Linked DNA regions of Homo sapiens: region 2 is linked to region 1. Evidence: fine-mapped expression QTL. A gene starts in region 1. The other region holds a variant in brackets. All regions are shown on one strand. Distances are between the middles of the regions. Region 1 holds the start of CHST8 (carbohydrate sulfotransferase 8). Region 2 overlaps CHST8 (carbohydrate sulfotransferase 8).

What was found. PIP is the estimated chance that this variant, and not a neighbour inherited with it, causes the effect. A credible set is the group of variants that fine-mapping cannot tell apart.
Region 2: its variant is the best candidate, but not a certain one, in a credible set for the expression of CHST8 in whole blood (TOPMed, PIP 0.82).

The regions. Positions count from the first base shown.
Region 1 is chr19:33,616,265-33,626,088 of GRCh38, reverse strand. It overlaps CHST8 (carbohydrate sulfotransferase 8), which reads right to left and starts at 4,136. Exons shown (of 5, transcript NM_001127895.2): 1 at 3,793-4,136. RefSeq lists an enhancer at 4,431-5,175.
Region 2 is chr19:33,716,836-33,726,659 of GRCh38, reverse strand. All of the region lies in intron 3 of CHST8 (carbohydrate sulfotransferase 8), which reads right to left. Among named protein-coding and RNA genes, the nearest start is that of KCTD15, 75 kb to the left of the region's middle. RefSeq lists enhancers at 1,283-1,879, 1,880-2,477. The variant A/G (reference allele first, on the strand shown) is at 4,913.

The sequences.
Region 1 (9,824 bases):
TCTGTCCCCGGGTTGTCTGGGTCCGTGGGTTTCCTCTGGAGGGAACACAGCCGCTCTGGAGTCAGATGAGCCCTGAATATGGCGCCAAAGACAGCACCAAACAGCCTACTGTCACCACGCTGTCACCATGCAGATTGCTCATGCCCAGCCAACTTTCTGAGGTTGCAGGACACTGATGCCATATCTACATCCAGGCACCAACCTCAATTTAAAAAAAAAAATTTATTTTGAGACAGTCTCGCTTTGTCGCCTAGGCTGGAGTGCAGGGGCATGATCTCGGCTCACTGCAACTTCTGTCTCCCAGGTTCAAGTGATTCTCCTGCCTCAGCCTCCTGAGTAGCTGGGACTACAGGTGAGCACCACCATGCCCGGCTAATTTTTGTCTTTTTAGTAGAGACTGGGTTTCACCACGTAGGTCAGGCTGGTCTCAAACTCCTGACCTCAAGTGATCCACCCACCTCGGCCTCCCAAAGTGCTGGGATTACAGGCGTGAGCCACCGTGCCTGGCCGATCTTTTAAAAACATATTTACTTATTTATTTCATTTTTTGCTGTGCCACTGCCGGGTCACATTGATCTCCTTGGGCCAGCACTATATAAATCTCCAGTTTATAACTCGTCACCTTCTGGTTAGCTGAAAGGCTGGCCACTCATTCCACATGGTGTTTATCGGCTCTAATTGCCACGGTTGCTCACTAAAGAGCAGCCATGCGGGGCGCGGTAGCTCACGCCTGTAATCCCAACACTCTGGGAGGCCAAGGTGGGCGGATCACGAGGTCAGGAGATCGAGACCATCCTGGCCAATATGGTGAAACCCTGTCTCTACTAAATACAAAATTAGCCGGGAGTGGTGGCGCATGCCTGTAATCCCAGCTACTCGGGAGGCTGAGGCAGGAGAATTGCTTGAACCCAGGAGGCAGAGCTTGTGGCAAACAGAGATCGCAACATTGCACTCTAGCCTGGGCAACAAGAGTGAAACTTTATCTCAAAAAAAAAAAAAAGAAAGAAAGAAAGCTGCCATAATCCTGTGTCCTCTTTCCTGCTCACAGGTTCCCCGCTGCCCCACGTTTCTCCAGTGTGGCTGCCACGCACCAGTAAATCAGGGAGGGAGGTTTTTCCAAGCTGCAAAGCAGCAGATGTAGCTAAGACAGGGATCTCAGATTCCAGGCCAGGCAGCAGGCAGGAGATGGGGACATCAGCCAGGGACCTCAGCTTGGGCCACACCTTCCCCATCAGCCCCTACAAGCACAGCCGCACTCACTAAAAATTTCTCCAGCCAGACGCATCAGCAATGATCAAAGCTCCCCTTCCTCTCTTCCATCAGCAAAACCACAAAAAGCCTATCAGGCTGCCTCTGGCAGGAACTCAGAGCTCAGAGCAGGGGAGCAGCCTGCGCGAGGTTTCCAATCAGGCAAATCTGACTCTCCCCTTTTTAAGAGAACTGAAGACAAATTCTGAGAGTAGCCCACCAGACACACTTTCTCAACAACCATACGGCAAAAAAGTCGTTTTTGAACTTTCCCAGACTTATTAGCTTACATAAACAGAGATTTGAATAAATGTTTAAAAAATGAAATTCCCTGGATACCCTGTAATCAGTAAATGTTCATTATGGAAACACAGCAAATATGCATGAAATTTCCCAAGTGATATTCTGGCTACAAGATTATAAAGGCATCTCTAACAGCAGGCTGAGTTACAAAGCATCCTCTGTCGTCGGTTACAGTCCGAGGGGGATGTTCTACCAAGCCCAGGAGGTCAGACGAGCCTGCTCTCCTCTCCCAACTGGAGCCAAGGAAAATCAAAAGATGCTCATTTTGCCTGCTCAGGCAATTTATAAATGAGCCCCCACGCTGCCTGATGGATGCCTCTCGATAAATAATTAATCCTTGACCTTGCTTTAAGAAAGCCTTGACTTTTTAATTTGGGGTCTTTTTAAAAATCAATACCCGGGAAACATAATTCACTCTTGCCGAGTCTGATTCCAGGTTAATAAATAAATAAGTAAATAAATGAGCTGCACTGTTTGTGTGTCCCAGGGCGACTGGGCCAGGCAATGGGTCAGGTTCCGGCTTTGAGGTTTTTCTGTGTTCAAATGCTATTGGATAATTGATCAGCCAGTCCCACTGGAACCAACATTCAGACCCTCAAGAGGTCCCTCTCTTCAGGGTTCCAATGTTATTCCTCCCGTGGGTCACTTCACAGAGGCCAGTCTGCTGAACGCTCCTGAATGAACTCCCACGCCGCCTTCTGTGCTTGGGGTGTCCTGATTAAAATTAAAAGAGGATCTCCTGCTGGGATGAGTGTCCTTCCTGTGGCCTGTCTGCCTTGCCTTTGGGACAGGGCACAGGGTGGGCAGGAAAGGTCATGACAGCTGGAAAATGTTAAGGGCTCTGCCACACCTGCTCCACGGGTGCCCTGTCCTAGGGCAGGACTTAGGGAAAGACTTCCCCACAGGTAGGCAAGGGTCAAGGTGAACTCAGAAGAGAAAGGTTACCCAGGAAAGTGGGCTTGGTATTGTAGCTCCTGGGGGCCTTGGGCGGCGGTGGGAAATAAAAGGGGGTTGATCTGCCTCTTACCCCTCTGTCCCCCGCCCCTCTCCACCATCCACTCCAAAGCAGCTACTACCTCCCTGCACCCAACGCCTCTCCCACGTGCTCTGCTGCTGCGCCAGATCGCGCCAAGCAGATGGAGAGGGGCCGGGACGCGCGTTCCCCTTAACGGAGCTGATCACGGCTCCTGAGCCAGCGGGAGTGGCCCAGGGACGCAGAGTCCTCTGGGACGCCGGAGACGACTGCAGGACAGAGAGCCCCAGGATCGGCGCCTACTTCTGGGTTAAAACAGACAGCCGGGCAGCAGCGCCCACAGCCGAGGGCGCCGCAGCCGCTTCAACTCCGGGTCGGGGTCGCGGGCCTGGAGACAAGATGTACGCGAAAGTTAGGGCGGCGGGAGTCCCGCACTGGAGAAGGAATCGGGGTCACATCAGACCCAAGCCCCAGCATCGGGCACTGCCAAAACCCGTGATCGCCCTCCTGGCCCGGCTGGCCTCCAGCGAGGCCAGAGCGGGTCTGCAGAGTCGGTAGCCGGAGTTGCAGCCGCCGTCAGAGCTCGGCTCGGTCCCGCGGCCAAACGGATCATTTCCCCGCCCCCTGGAGCCGCCCCAGGCTCCGACTCCCGCACTCCCGACACACGCACGCACACACCTTCACACCATCGCTGACGCACGCACACTCGCCTCCAGCACTCACAGGCCGGTGCCCTGGAGAGTTGCGGGTCGGGGACGCGCGCGACGGAGCCGCTGGGTAGGAAGCCAAGGCCACTTAAACTTCCCCCATAGTCTCTGCCCGCCGCAACCCGTCCGGAGCCCCGGCTCCGAGCGCGCCAGGAAGCCCCAGCGCCCCGAGCGCTCCTGCCTGGCCCTCGGCGCTCGCTGCTCAGCGCCCGACGCCGCCTCCCCGCGGGCAGCACCGAGGGCCAGGAGGCGGAGCGGGAGTCCGCAGGGACCAAGAGGGCCCGAGGGACGGCAGTTCCCAGAAGCGCGGCAGCGAGTGAGATCCAAGGAGAGAAAGTCTAATTAAAGTTCCCGCTACCGGGGCCGGTCCCCAAAGTGCAACCAGACCCGAGCCCCGCGCGCCCACCTCCGCCCGCAGCTTCGGACTCCCATTCGCGTGCGGTGGCGGGGATGGCGAGCGGTGCAGTCCGGGGCCCGCTCGGGACCCCTTCCTGGCGTCTCTGCAGGCCAGGAGCCTGCGCAGGGCGGGAACAGGGGTGGGGCAGGGGCGCAGCCACTTACCTGGCGCAGCGGACGCACCCGAGGCCGCGGGCGCCTCCAGTCCGGGAGCGGTTCTCCGCGGCGGATCCTCTGCTTGGGGCGCGCAGGCGGCGGAGAGGACCTCCGACCCAGCTCGGGCCCGGTGCCTCCGCCCGCTCCAAGCGGAACCCAGTGCGATCTGTGGGCGAGCAGCGTGGGGCCGGCAGCCGGAGCGTGCGGGGAGCGAGAGGGCGCGGGGCGGCGTTCCTCTTCGGCCCCCGGCGCGATCGGTCCCCCACCTCCTGCTGCCGCCGCCGCCTCGTCCTCTCTCCTCCCCGCAGCACTGCCGGATCCGGCTTGCGCGCCGGGAAGGCTCCCAGCGAAGTGAGAGCGAAGCCTCCGGCGAGGCTGGAAATAGCGCCGCGCCCGCCCGGCGCCCCGCCCCCGGCCCGTGCCCCGCCCCGCCGTGGTGGCGGCTACGGCGGTGGCCGGGCCGGGCGGGGATCGCTCCAGCGATGCACTCGGCCCTCCCGGGGGCTCGCGGGCGCCGCGCCCACGCGCGCTCTGCGGCTCCCGCGGCCCCTCTGGCAGCGCTCTCAGAAAGAGTCGCTGCTGGGCGCGGTCCGGCGGCCGCGGGGGTGGGAGCGGTCGTGGCTGGGGCTGCGCCGGTCTCCCGGTTCAGGAGAGCCGGACTCCGGCCTGACGCTAGGCTCCAGACCGCGGCCAGTGCTGCCACTGCCTCGGTGGGTCGCACGCGGCGCCAACCCGGGAAAAGGACCAGGCGTCACCGGGGCGGGCCTTGACCACAGCGGGGCAGGGGCGCGCGCCCAGGACCCGATGCTGCGGGGGCGCAGGGCCGGTGAAAGGCGGAAGATTGATCCTGAGGAAGATTCTGGGATATCCCTGGGCTTCAGCTCGCGTGGAATTCGGTCAAGGCCGCGAGCTGCCTCAGGCCCGGGTGTCCGCATCCATCCTCAAATCCCTGGGGCTCTAGATTCTGCTGAAAGTGCCCTGCGAACAGGTGCTCCCTTCAGGACTTCATCCTGGAAGTTTGTGTCGGGTCACCAGCCTGAGAGCGGGGCCAACCGACCCTCTTCATACACACTCGGGAAAACAGCGTGGAGGGTGGAACCGGCCCACGGCCACACAGCACCGGGACAGAGTAGGGACAGGAACACGGGGCCCTGGATTCGGGTCCTTGTTCTTCCTAAGAAGAGGCAGCCCCAGCCTGCAGGGGACAAGCAGGCCTTGGGAAGGGGGGCAACTGCTTTCTCACAGGAGCTGGAGGAAACTGTGCACACAGTCACCTGTTAGTCTTGAAGGGACACTCAGTATTTTCAAACAACAGCAGAGAAGCCTTTAATAAAGTGAAAGACCCTTACTCTCTCCTCTCTAATGGTACCTGCTGGCTGGTTGGCCTGACTCCTACCAGCTGACCTAGAGTGAGTGATGGAATTGGGGAGTGAGCTGGGCCCATGGGTCTTGACTGACCAGAGTGGGGGACACCAGGCGGAGAGCAGAGCCACTCCTGGGGACGGCCAGGGAGCCCCTCAGCCCCAGGGCCATGAGGCCTCCTTAATGCCCCAGGTAAGCTCAGAGCATCCAAAAATAGACCAGGACAGATAAGAAGATAAATAGAAGCATGACAAAGAGATCATGGTCTTCCTTTAATTCTTGCAGCAACAGAGTAGACATTATCACTCCCGTATTACAGATGAGCGAATTGAGATGCAAAAATGCCACCATTTTGCTGGACTCCACGCATCTGGAGAATGGCCCAGGTGTGATGATTCCAAACTGGGATAGGCTTTGTTCTGGGGTTCCCTTTCCAGGACTTTAGGCTCGGAGTGACCCAGGCCTGGGGCTGCGCTGGGACCCAGGCACACTCCACTGGCTGCACGCATGAGGGGAATGTGTGTGTGTGTGTGTGTGTGTGTGTGTGTCTGAAATCACCCTCCTCCGCCTCAGTCAGGTGCAGATTGGAGGAGCTGAGTGCAAGGGCCAGGGACTCAAGTGTCAGGAAAAACAGGGCAGTGGAACCCTTATTCATCCTACATCCCAAAGCTGTTGGAGCAGAGCAGGAGAGAAGGTAGGAACAAAGAGAGGGGAGAGTGGAGTGAGCAAAAAGTCACTTGCCGGACTAGCTCACAGTGCAATGACCCCATCCCTGTCCCTGTGGTCCCCTTACCCCACACTTGCAGCCCCTCTTGCCACCCAAGGTCCTGACCATAGCTTGGCTGGGCAGCTGCCCATGAGCTCCCTGTCTGCAGTTAGGCCTGGAACAGAGCACACAACTTTTGCCACAGAGGCCTGATGGTCAAGAGAATCTCTTCAGTACCATGAACACTCCAGAGGGCAAATGCATGCACACACACACACACATGCACACACACGGAGAGAGAAAGAGAGACTTAACTGCAATGGGGAGATAATAGGAGCTCCCATTTCCAGAGCCCAGCCTCAAAGCTGGAAAGGGGGCTCTGGACCATGAGTACTTCCATGCGACAAGTCTACACAGGCTTTATTTCCCTGGGATGCATCTATACAGGCTTTGCCGTGACCAGTGAGTGGAGCGAGCCAAGCCATCTCAGCAACACTGTGCATCTGTGTGCCGCGATCCTCCTGGGAAGGATGGTTTTTCCATTAGCTTTCCCAACTGTACTTATTAGCACTTATTTGCATCTAATATTCAGGCAGACACCACTAGGAATCAATAACGCTGCATTCCTTTGACATTCTCTCCATTTTCCATTTTTAACTCAGACTTCCTTCTTGTTTTGAGAGGCCATGGGGGAAATCCCCAAAGGGGGCCTGAGGCCCCTGGCACCAACTCGCAGTGAGTTTTCCTCCGAGATTTGCCAAGGGCTGCGTGCCCTTTTTTGAAAGTCAGGCTCAGCCTCTGCAGCGAGGGAGGAGCAGGAAGGCTGCAATTCCCTGCAGGAAGCCTTGTGTGCTCACTTGCGATTTTTGATATGTGTGTCTCCACCGAAAGATTAGTGGCAAACTTGTCTCTTTGCATCCCAACTAAGGTGAAAGACATTTTTAGTGCATGGCCCCATGCGCCCACAGCCTAAGCCCCAGAAGGGCTAATAGAGAGGTTCAGGTGCCAATCTGTTTGCTGCAACAAGGATACAGGAAAGAGGAGGGGGCTTGGCTCTGGGACGCAGGCAGACCCCCGCCTCCACTGGCTCTGGGCTCCCTTTCCTCAGGCCGTTCCTGCAAGTGAAGGTTCCTGCCCGTCTTTGGGCTGGAGGCTGAAGGTGGCACAGTGGGAAGCTGAGACTGTCTCACATTGTGTTTGGCAAGACTGAGTCTTGAGTCCTGAACCTTCCATCTGTTGCCATGAGAGGAACCAGAACAGGCTGGGCATGGTGGCTCATGCCTGTAATTCCAGCACTTTGGGAGGCTGAGGTGGGCAGATCACTTGAGGCTAGGAGTTTGAGACCAGCCTGGCCAACATAGCAAAACCCCATCTCTACTAAAAATACAAAAGTTAGCAGGGCATGGTGGTGCTCACCTGTAGCCCCAGCTACTCAGGAAGCTGAGGCAGGAGAATCACTTGAATCTGGGAGGCAGAAGTTGCAGTGAGCTGAGATTGTGCCACTGCACTCCAGCCTGGGTGACAGCGTGAGACTCTATTAAAAAAAAAAGAAGAAGGAGAAGGAGAAGGAGAAGAAGAAGAAGAAGAAGAAGAAGAAGAAGAAGAAGAAGAGAAGAGGAAGAAGAGGAAGAAGAGGAGGAAGAGGAGGAAGAGGAGGAAGAAGAGGAAGAAGAGGAAGAAGAAGAAGAAGAAGAAAAGAAGAGGAAGAAGAGGAAAAAGAAGGAGGAGGAGAAGAAGAGGAAGAAGAAGAAGAAGAAGAAGAAGAAGAAGAAGAAGAAGAAGAAGAAGAAGAAGAAGAAGAAGAAGAAGAAGACGAGGAAGAAGAAGAAGAAGAAGAAGACTTGTTCCACAGAGGAGTTTGGGAGCCATCTATACTGGCAGGTCGGGAACACCTCATCTGTCTCCCTGCATCCCATGGGAGGAAGAAGGGAATGATGGGATGGGCCAGGAGGTCTGCTTCAGCTCTCCCAGGTGCCAGCTAGGGGGTCTTGAACTTGTCTCCTAACCCCTCAGAGCCTGTTCCCTGTATGCAGAGACAATAGACTGTCCCTGCAGAGGAAAGGTGAAGGGTGTCATGGCATTTTGGGAATTGGAGTCCTGTGACCAGACTGCCCTTAGCCACCCACAGACTAGTCACCTCAGGGTATGACGTGGCCTGGCCTTGCTTCCACGTCCAACATCTGGCCCTGTAATGGCCTCTGCAATATTGTGACCCCAAGGCTTCCTGAAGTCAGTTCAACACACAGACAGGCCAGTGACGTGCTGATCAGAGTGCCATCCAGGCGGGAGACTCCTCCTGGGAACGGACCTGCCTTCCTCAGCTGCTCTCTGGGGCCTGTGTGGGCTCCGGGCCATGCCTTCCCTCCCCAGGCCTCGACCTCCCCATTCGAAAGATGAGGGATGGGGGCCCAGGATCTGAAGGCCTGCTGTGCAATTCCATGATTCCTAAAAGTTCCTCACCAGGGAACGTGGCCCAGACTCATTTCCAGCCAAGGTATCCCTTGGCCACCTTATGGGATGAATGTTCCTTCCCAGGCCTTTTCCTCCTCTCTCCTTTCCCCTTTTCTGTCACCTCTTGGGTTTTCAAGGAGCTGGAGGGTCACTTTGTTTCCTTCTGAGTTGAGTTGTCTGAAATTTCCTGATGTCAATATGCCTGGGTGGGTATCCCCTGCATAAGCAACATTGCTGGGGGTTCTGGGCATCCCTGAACCCCATATACCTGTCACAATTTCGAAATTTCACCATCATTCCTCAGGGTATAAGAATGGTTTCTCTTGGCTGGGTATGGTGGCTCACGCCTGTAATCCCAGCACTTTGGGAGGCAGAGAAGGGCAGATCACAAGGTCAGGAGTTCAACACCAGCCTGGCCAACATGGTGAAACCCCATCTCTACTAAAAACACAAAAATTAGCCAGGCGTGATGGTGCACGCCTATAATCCCAGCTACTGGGGAGGCTGAGGCAGGAGAATTGCTTGAACCCAGGAGGTGGAGGTTGCAGCGAGCTGAGATGGCGCCACTGCACTCCAGCCTGGGTAACAGAGCAAGACTCCGTCTGAAAAAAAAAAAAAAAAAAAAAGGAATAGTTTCTCTTTAAAGAGAAGTTTTTCTGGGGCAGGCTAAAGTGACACCAGTCCTTAACACAGAAGAGAGTTGGTGAACAGATGTGGTTTTCTAGAGAGTGCACAACAGAAACTATGACTAACTTGCAAAGAAAGGGGAGACTTTATTTTTCTGAGACAGAATCTCACTCTATCACCCAGGCTGGAGTGCAGTGGCATGACCCTAGCTCACTGCAACCTCAAACTCCTGGGCTCAAAGGGTCCTCCCACCTCGTTCTCCTGAGTAGCTGGGAACACAGGTGTGCACCACCATGGCCAACTAATTTTTTATTTTTTATTTTCTGTAGAGACAGGGTCTCACTGTGCTACCTAGGCTGGTCTCGAACTCCTAGGCTTGAGTCATCTTCCTGCTTGGCCTCCCAAAAGTGTTGGGATGATAGGCATGAGCCACCATGCCCTGCCAGACTTTCTTAAAAGGACACTGGGGAATCCAACAGAGCAGAGAGGCGCTGAGTACCCAGGAGGGAAGAAGGCAGGAACCAGGGAATAAGGTTCGAGTACTCTGGGGGCAGCTGTTGGCTCTCTAGGATGGGTCGCCATCCCTAGAGCTGCAGACCACTCACTGCCTTGGTGGCCCTGATGCGCTCCCCACAGCCTGAGGTGGGCAGGCCTGCAGGGGGCTTTGCTGACCCCAGAGCCCAAGACAGAGCCATGCCCAAGCCAAGTCCAGCCCCTCCATGCAAACCAGGCTTGGAGCCAGCTTGGCTACTCTATTGAGGTCTTGCCAAACTCAAGTTCATTTTGATGCTTCTTAATTAAAAAAAAAAGATCTCCACTGGACTGCCTGCTCCTGGTCACTCCTTCAGTTCCCAAGTATCCTTGAGACGGATGATCCTCCAGTGGCGGGGCTCCT
Region 2 (9,824 bases), 100 kb before region 1:
CTGCTCCTGGGACACCGATCCAGCCCCATCCTGTGAGCCACCCAGAGGGAGTTCTAGTGCCCACACCCTTCACTCCCCACCTCCCAGCTGATGCTCACACTTTTATTATTATTATTATTATTGAGACAGGGTCTTGCTCTGTCACCCAGGCTGGAGGACAGTGGTGCAACCAGGACTTCCAGCAGCCTCTATCTCCTGAGCTCAAGCCCCTGAGTAGCTGGGACTACAGGCATGCGCCACCATGCTAATTTTTGTATTATGGGTAGAAACGGGGTCTCGCTATATTGCCCAGGCTGGTCTCGAACTCCTGAGCTAAAGTGATCCTCCCACCTCAGCTTCCCACAGTGCTGGGATTACAGGCATGAGCCAATGTGACCAGCTGATACTCACCTTTAAAGACATCAATACCAGGTCCCAGGATGGCAAGGCCTTTAGGACCTGGTATGTGACTGGCTGGCCCTGTCCCCTGCCCCATCTACCACCACACCTTCCACTCCTGGCCACAAAGCACAGTCATCTCAAGAGGTCAGTGGCCTGAGGGCCTTCTGCCCGGTTGCTGAAGGCCTTGGGATAGAACTGGGTCAACTCAGACCCCGGTTCTTACAGGAGGAAGAGGGAGAATGCAAGAAGCCCCTGCTGCAGCGGGCAATGACCTTCATGCCCCACCCTGAAAGCTTCTCTCTGGGCCAAGGGGAATCGGACCACTTCCAGGCAAGAGCCCTGAGCGGCCCCATTCCCAGTGTCTCCAGTGGGCAAGTCCAGCTCAGCCCAAAATACCAGCCACCTAGACCCTGTGGCCAGGCTCCGGCCCAGGTCACTCTGCCCTGATCCTTCCCAAAGCACCCACCACGACCAGATGAGAGAATATAGAAGATGAGGCTAGAGATAAGGGGCTGGCCGAGGCTGAAGCCTCCAGCTCTGTTCTCTTGGCTCACCCTGGCAGCCCCTAACCCTTCTTTCATCACACCTCTGTGCCGAGACCCCCAGAGTCCCAGTGGTGAGGACCAGGGAGGCCAGAGTGGGTGGGAGAGCCAAGGGAGAAAGAGTATCTTTCGCTTGCGTCGCATTTGGGGCAAAGGAAGGTGAAGGCAGGAGAAGCACCCTTCTTGCTAATGAGGGAGTGAAGGCTCACTGAGCTCAGGGCAGGGCAGTGGGGAAAGGGCTGGTACTGGCGCCTCGAGGCCCCACGCAGGGCTCAGCAGGGACCCTGGGCCACTGCAGGGACCAGGAGATTGTGGCCATGGGTTTTTAATTTTCACCTTTCACAGATTTCATTACCAGGAATTTCAGATTTGGATTAGGACTCGAGGCTTAGCTCTCAGAATGAGTCGAGGAGGGGCCCACAACAGCAGGTACAGGATGCCCCTGGGGGGTGAGTGTGTGGGGAGGGGCATCAGTCAGGAGCCAAGGAGAAATGCCCTTCCCCACGGGGACCTCTTAGCCTGATCAAGGGTTTGTGACGCGCAGACATAGAGCCACAGACGTAGAGACTCGGTTGTGTCCCCACAATCACATGCAGCCACGCAGCTCTGGAGACACCCTCACACTCTGTGCACGCACACTCATGTCCCTCATAACAGCGCCCCCCGATACATATGCTTGCACTTGCACACACAGCAGTGCTGGTCTCCTGATGACAGCTGTGCGCTGCCGATGGCTCCCGGGAGCTCTGTGCCCTCACTCCCTCCCCAACCCCCAGCATCTGCTGGGTCGATCCTCCAGGGATCTGCTGGTGAGCAGCTGCGGCCTGGTCCCTGGCTGGGGTGTGCCGAGGTGTGGCCCCCCACTCTGGGCCACAGTCCACCCTTGGAGCAGGCTCTGTCAGTGCCCAAGGAGAGGTGGAGCAGCTGGGGACCTCCCCAGCCCACCCGGAGTGGGCCTCTCTGTGCCACCTGGCTGGGGAGCTCCAGGGCCAGGTCTCCATGCCTGCCACATGCTAGGATGGGGAGAAAAGGGAAGGCAGGGAAGGAGAGGGGGCAGGGGCAGGGCCCAGGAGTGGCAGGTCTGACCTGGTCTTTGTGCCCCTCCAGGGCCTTCCGAGGCAGATGCAGCCCCAGGCAATACTGTCCAGGCTTGCGCCCACACTCAGTGAGGGAGGGCGTGTCCTCCAGGCTGCAGACGCACATTTTAATGGAGCTTCAATTATTCATGGAGCCTGGGAAGAGCAGCCCGGCTGCCAGCCCCGCAGCCACACTTTACAGAACTGCTTACGGCTCCTTGGCTGAGCCCGGATGGGGGCCGGGGGTATCCTCATCTAAAAGTGGAGGGAACACTGGGGAAGGTGAGGCCCCTAATGCAGCACCTGACCCCCGGGTGGGGGCTCGCCCAGCACCTTCCCCTTCTGCACAGTGAGAGGATGGTGGAGGTCCCAGGCCCCACACCCAGGGCATGGAAGCTGCCTGTGGGGCAGGGTGTGTCAGGAGGGGGCTGGGCCTGGGTGTGGGGTAACCGGTGGAGCCTGGTCAGGAGGCTAGGCTCATCTAAAGCTTGAGGCCAGAGCAGCTGCCTGTGGCTGCATGGAAGTGACTGCACAGCACCCATGTGGGGCCAAGGGCACCGAGGAGCCAGGCCCGGTGCCTGCAGGCTGAGCCTCTTAGTGCCTGAGACGCAAGACCTCACCCCAGGAGGAAAGTACCCACACTCAGTTTCTGTCCACCTAACCTCCCCCTTCACAACCACACCAGCACCCCTTCGCCACGGGAAGCTACTCCTCCCCACTCTCAGCCCCTGTGGTTTGGATGAGGTGGCACCACCCACACCAGAAGGGGCATGGGATCCTCCTGCCAAAGGAATTGGCTCGAGGATGATCAGGTAACACAATGGGGTGACAATGGCGGCCCAGAGATGCCAGGGCCACCCCTTGGCAAAAGGCTATCTGGGACTGAAGCCCACGAGAGGAGAAGCAGAGGCAAGGAATGGAGAAGCTAAGTTCTGACCACACCAAGGCAGAGCCTAGATACAGCCCTACCTGATGCTGTCCCTTGCAATTGAAATGTTCCTGTCCAATCCAGGATCCTTCACCCTCAGACTGCCTTCCTTCTACAGGCACCTGCTTTCTCCAGCAGGAAGGGGGATGGTAGGTGAGCACAGGGTTCCAGCCACCACTCCTCTCTTCTAGGCACCAGCTGAGCAGGGAGTGGCAGTGAAATGGCTCAGGGAAGGACAGCCTGCTGGGAATCCTGTCTCCTAGAGAGAGGACTCAAGGGTAACCAAGGGAGATGCAGATGTTGGCATATACAGCAACACCTTGATGATGAACACAGGCCCCTCACACACCTTTGTGTAGACACACGCGTGCACACACAAATGGTCAAACATATGCTCCTAGGTGCCTGTGCATGCACACACTCACATGGATACTGAGATCTGCATGGATGTGCACACAGACATCTGCACATACGCAGTCATGCACATTCTCAAACAAATACTCAGATACACACACACTCACAGGTATTCAGCCTCCAGGCATGCACGCACACACAAAGATCCAATCCCACCCACAGACACATTTGCTCATGAACCCAGGGCGTGCACACATTCCCACTGAGCCCCACACTTAACACAGGATCACGCATAGGGAGTGGAAATGTGAGCCAGGCTGGTGCCCTGGGCTCTGCAGGAAGTGGAGCAGGGGAGCCTCTGACGTTGTCTTCTTGTTCCCAGCAGAGCCGGGCTTATCTTCGGAAGGGTGAATGCCAGGTGAAAAATGATTAGCTGTCACTCAGCACTTGATAGATGCAGACCCCCTCTTACCCTTGCTCCTGGCAAAGGACTGACATGTTATTGATCCACTTAGTGTATTCATATCAGCAGCTGCAGAGGCTGAGCCAGGACTAACTGGAGAACATCAAAGCAGGGAGAAAAGAGAGATGTGGGTGGGGAACTGGGGGTGGCTGTTAGGCTGTTCCAGCTTCCCAAGGCCCGTGATGGGAGTTACGCTCGGGGTGGGAAACAGCTGTTTCTCCCCAGAAACCTCATCTCCATTCACATCCCCTCCAGGTTCGTGTTACCAATTGAGAATGCCCAGCCCCAGGGAAGAGGGGGAAGGGGTGCAACCAAGGAACAAAGAGGTAAGAAAGACAGGGCCAGAGGCAGCCTGATGACAAGACCACAGGAATGCTGGGTGTGCGAACTGCAAGAAAATAGCTTCTGGAGATGATGTTGAGCTTTCAACCTGTTTCCTGAGAGAATTTAGTCCCCAGAGGGGCTACGGTTCAGTCTACCAACAAATCTTTGCCTCCCCTCATGTATTTCCTTCTTTTACTACATGTACCTACCCATCCGTCTGTCCGTCCGTCCATCCATCAGTCTGTCCACCCATCCATCCATCCATCTGCCCATGCACCCACCCATCTGTCCATCTTTCCATCCGTCTGTCCATCCATCCATTCATCTATCACTCCCTCCCTCCCACCTTCCATCCACCCATTCATTCAGCTCATCCAGACTGTCTACCCACCCATCCATCCATCTGCCCACCCACCCACCTAGCTGTCCATCTTCCCATCTATCTGTCCATCCATCCATTCATCTATCCATCCATCCCTTCATCCATCCATCCATCCATCCATCCATCCATCCATCCATCCATCTCATCCATCAGTCTGTCTACCCATCCATCCATATGCCCACTCACTACCTATCTGTCCATCTTTCCATCTATCCATCCATCCATCCAAACAGCCATCCATCCATCCATCTGCCCACTCACCCACCCATCCATCCATCTGTCCATCCATCTGTCCATCCATCCATCCATCCATCTACCCACTCACCCACCCATCCATCCATCTGTCCATCCATCCATCCATCCATCCCTCTATACAAACATCTATCCCTCCATCACCTATCTGCCCACACATACTTCCATTTGCCCACTCACCTACCCATCTGTCCAACTTTCCATCCATCT[A/G]TCCGTCCTTCCATTCATCTATCCATCCACCCTTCCCTCCATACATTCTTCCACCCAGCCATCCCTCTATCCATTCATACATCCCTCCATCCATCTACCCACCCACCCACCCACACATCCATCTATCTGCCTACTCATCCATCCATCCATCCATCCATATGCCCACTCATCTGCCTACCCATCCATCTTTCCATCAATCTGTCCATCCACCTATCTATCCATCCATCCACCCATCCATCCATCCATCTTCCCACTCACCATCCATGCATCCATCTGTCCATCCATCCAACCACACAACAGACATGTGTTAAGAACCTAGCATAGCAGTGTTAGGCCCTGCACACCCTGTGGTGATGCAGTGTGGGAAGGTGACTGTGGGTGTTCAGAGATAGGAAGATACCTGGGCTCTGTCCTGGAGGATGCCCGATCTCAGAGGACAGAAGATGGAGAAGGACTGGGGACTGGAGGAATGTGAGTTGGCTCAGGGCTCCATCTTCTGGTGTCAAGGCAAACACATGCTGCTGGAGCCAATGCTGACTCCGAGGACCCTGCAATAGGGTTTCCAGCCATGGCTGCGGGCCCCCAGAGAGGGTCCCCGAGAGCACTAGCTTTCTGGTTGGGTCCAGTTGCCTCCCAATGAACGATTCCCTTGTGATTACATGGACTTTGATTTCCTATTTCCACAGATAAGACAGAGCTGAGATGAGTGGCCCTGAACCTGGGATGGCCAGAGGTGCAAGCTGAAGACAGACAGGGCAACTCTGGTCAGATCAAACTGTAGCCACCCTGGCTTGGGCCAGGTCTGGGCACCACTCCTCCCTGCGTCCACGTCGGGCCAGTGCTGGTGGCCACTCTGCTTTCAGCAATGATGGACGTGGCCCTCACTGATATGGAAGCCCCTGAACTGGCCCCAGCTCCCAGGCTAGGCTGACCCCTGCAAGGGGAAGGAACTGCATAGTGGAAGGAGGATAGGGGAGTGGGGGCCTGCCCTGGAGGCTCCTGACACTGCATACCACTGCCTGCCCAGCTCCCTGCCTCCTGTGTCCCCATGGTCTTGAGGGGAGAACTTCCAGCTCTCAGCAGTGTGCTCTGCTCAGCTTACTGTGGGAGCCCCAGGAAGAAAAGGGCTGCCCCTCCACTGTAAGCAGATGCCAGGGCTGGCAGAGAAGCTTTGGATGGTGGACAGAGGCCAATGGGCAGAGTGTGTTTGCTACATGCATTCCGTGTGTGTGTGGCAAGCATATGTGGTGTGTGTGGTGTGCAGTGTGTATGTGTGGTGCATGTGTGTGCAGTGTGGGTATGTGTGGTATATATGTGTGGTGCATGTGTGTGGTACATGTGTGCGGGGTGTGTGGTGCATGTGTGGTGTATGTGGGGTATGTGTGATGCATGTGTGGTGTGTATGTATGTGTGGTGTGTGTGTGCAGTGTGTATATGTGATGTGTGTGTGGGAGTGTGTATGTGTGTGTGGCCTGCGTATGTGTGGTGTATGTGTGGCGTGTGTATGGGGTATGGGGTGTGTATGTGTGGTACATGTATGGGTGTATGTCATGTGTGCATGTCACCACCAGGCCCACACAGTCCCTCCTGTCCCTCCCCATGGTATGAGGAGCTGCCCATGCCCTTCTTCCGTGGGAGTTTCTGGGCATAGAGGGTGACTCCAGCCTGGCGGAGGAGCTGTGTGTACAGACAGCGGGGCTGCCGACACCACAGTGCTGCCTAGGAGAGAACATGTAGTGCCGAAGCTCTCCCAGAGGGGAAGCTGGAGCCCCACGGCCTTGTGTGTGGCCTGAAGCCTTTCCATTTCTATCTAGTGCCTGACACACTGAGTGTGTGGCTGCAGCAGTAGCTCTGTCACAGAGGTCACGGACGGGCTGGCTTCCCTGGCCTTCAAGAGAGCTGCTGGAGGAGACAGTGGGTATCACGTGTCATGCTCAAGTGTAAAGCCAGGCTCACTGTGCATGGTTCAGGTCCGACTGCATGTGATTTTTTTTTTTTTTTGTAACTCACAGTAAATTGCTCCAGGTCCCCATCCCCCTCTTTAGGACCCTGTGAAGCTCCCTGGACCCAGACAGCCTGGGGTGTCTGGGGGATCTCTGCCTTCCATTCCCTCTGGTCAGATGGCTGGGAAGTCAGCCCTGGGGCTGCAGTCCAGTCTCCCTAGGTGTCCCCCCGAGTTCTGTCTCTCAGCGCCTGCCACCTCCAGGGATGGTTGCCACTCTCCAGGGAACACTCATTTTCAGCAACTCCCCATCCCCTCAGCTTTGGACTTCGTGTCTGCCTCACCTCCTTCAAAGACACTTCCCCTAGAACAATTCCTCAGTGAGCTTAGGCTTCCTAAAACAGAAGTGTCCAAGGACCCAGTCCCCATCTCCCCAGCAAGGACAGAGAGACCTTGAGAGGAGAAATTCCACCAGGAGTGAACACACATGGGTGTCACCAATGACACCAGAGCCACTTGATCCTGCCTCCCCGCCCAGGGCTCCCCCACCCGGCCCACCCCCGGCTGACAGAAGGTATTTGCCTTATATCAAGGGAGGTGTAAACATTTTACAAAACATTTCAGCAGCTTCAGCAACAGTTTAGAAAACACGTTTTATTTTGGAGGTGGTAGACACCCGCCTGAGTTCGCCTGGTCTTTGGCTGCAGTGTCACACCTATGACATCACTGGCAGGGGGGTGGGGGAGAGGAGGCTGGGCACACCCAGTCCCGGGAGCCCAGGTCTCGGGTGGAAGCCCTGGAGTGAAGAGACACCTCTCCAACAAGTCCAGAGCCCCTGTAGTGCAGAGCAAGACCTGGAGGCCTCCTTCCCTCTCAGTAGCAACAGAGATTCAAGACTTCAGGACTCCAAGGACAGATGCACAGGCCCCGCCCACAGCTCTCTCTCTCCCTCCTCAGCCCTAGGGGACCGTGACCTCTCCCCACTGGATCCAGCAGGGCCAGCCTCATGCTGGCTGAGCTGCCTCAACACCCTCCTCCGCAGGCTGCGGCTCTGACCTCTTCTTGGGGAGAAGCCAGGAGGATTCTGGGTAAACACAGGGACTGAACGTGTACGTTGAGCTCATCTTCCTCCTGAGATCCCAGCATAATGACAGCGAAGGAATGAAACAGAGGGGCCCATGGTAATGAAGAGAGCTAGAGAGGAACAGCAGCAGATGCCAGATTGCAACATGATTTTGGAAGATGGGAAGGGGACGGAGGGTGGGAGCAGATTCTACAGGGTGAAGGGGACATGCTAGCTGAGCCTGCAGAGGAGTGCGGGGAAGACTGCCTTGCCCCACAGAATGCAGCAAAGTGCAGGACTTGGAAGCACCAGGACAGGCAGATGGCAGGGGTGAAATGTGGGCTTAAAAATCTAGTGGCAGTTGGGCACAGAGGCTCACGCCTGTAATCCCAGCACTTTGGGAGGCCAAGATGGGAGGATCACTTGAGTCCAGGAGTTCAAAGCAGCAGTGAGCTATGATTGGGCCACTGTAGTCCAGCCTGGGCAACAGAGCAAGAGTCTGTTTAAAAAAAAAAAAAAAGAAAGAAAAAAAGACAATCCAGTGACCAGGCAACTATCCCCTACTGCACCCCTGGCGGGAGATGGAAGATGTACCTGCTGAGGAAACTGCAAATAACCTATGGACTCCAAGCTGGGAGGAGGAGCAGGGAGCACTGCTTTCAGAGGACTAACTGGGAGGCTTCAGACAGAGTGATCAAAGCCCTGGCTGCCTTCCGGTCCTGTACACACTGGGGGTCTTCTGCCAGGATGGAGACTGCAAGTCCGTTTGGTATAGAATGAACTGCATTCCCCTCCAAATCCACCTTGAAGTCCTAACCCCCAGTACCTCTGAATGTGACTGCAGATAGAGTCTTTGCAGAGGTAATTAAGTTAAAATGAGACAGGAATAATACAAGGTGGCCACAGGAGAATAAAAATTCCAGGCAGTAGTTTCATATGACACCCTGAAAAACAGGGTGTGGACCAAGCTGGCTAAGACCAACTGGGCCCAACATGGCACTAGATATGACCTCGGTTTCTCCTAGGACCTCGCTGTATGCTCATTAACATCCTAACTCACTCACCCACCAGTGCTGTGACAGTTCCGAGACCACCCATGTTTGGTGTAAAAACGTGTGGCACTACAGTTCTAAGAAATCTCCACTTTTTTCCCAGGAATTTTCATGAATATTCCACCCCTGGATTAAATAAACGCATAAAGGTAGCAGCCCCACACCCCACCACACGACTCTTGAGTCTGCCGGCACTCCTTTCTTGAGCGTGTACTTTTTTTTTCTTTTTTGAGATGGAGTCTCGCTCTGTTGCCCAGGCTGGAGTGCAGTGGTGTGATCTCGGCTCACTGCAACCTCTGCCTCCTGGGTTCAAGCAATTCTCCTGTCTCAGCCTCCTGAGAAGCTGGGACTACAGGCGCGCACCACCACGCCTGGCTAATTTTTGTATTTTTATTAGAGACAGGGTCTCACCATATTGGTCAGGCTGGTCTCGAACTCCCAACCTCAGGTGATCTGCCTGCCTTGGCCTCCCAAAGTGCTGGGATTATAAGCATGAGCCACCTCACCCAGCCAGAGCATGTACTTTTCACTTTGTAATAAATCCCTATACTTGCACTATTTTCTGAATTCCTTCTTGCAAGGGTGTCAAGAGCCTGGACACTGGCTGGGGTTGAGGCCCCACTGGCATTCGAGGACCTCCCCCAGCCCACCGGTATCAAAAATGGAGTCATTAGAGTGTACCCTAGTGATCCCTAGAACGGGTATCCTTATAAAGAGGAAATTCTGATGCAGACAGGGGCAGAGGGAAAACCATGGGAGGACACAGGGAGAAGATGGCCATCTACAAACCCAGGAGAAAGGTCCCAGAAGAAACCGACGCTGCCCAATGCCTTGATCTCAGACTCCTGGCCTCCA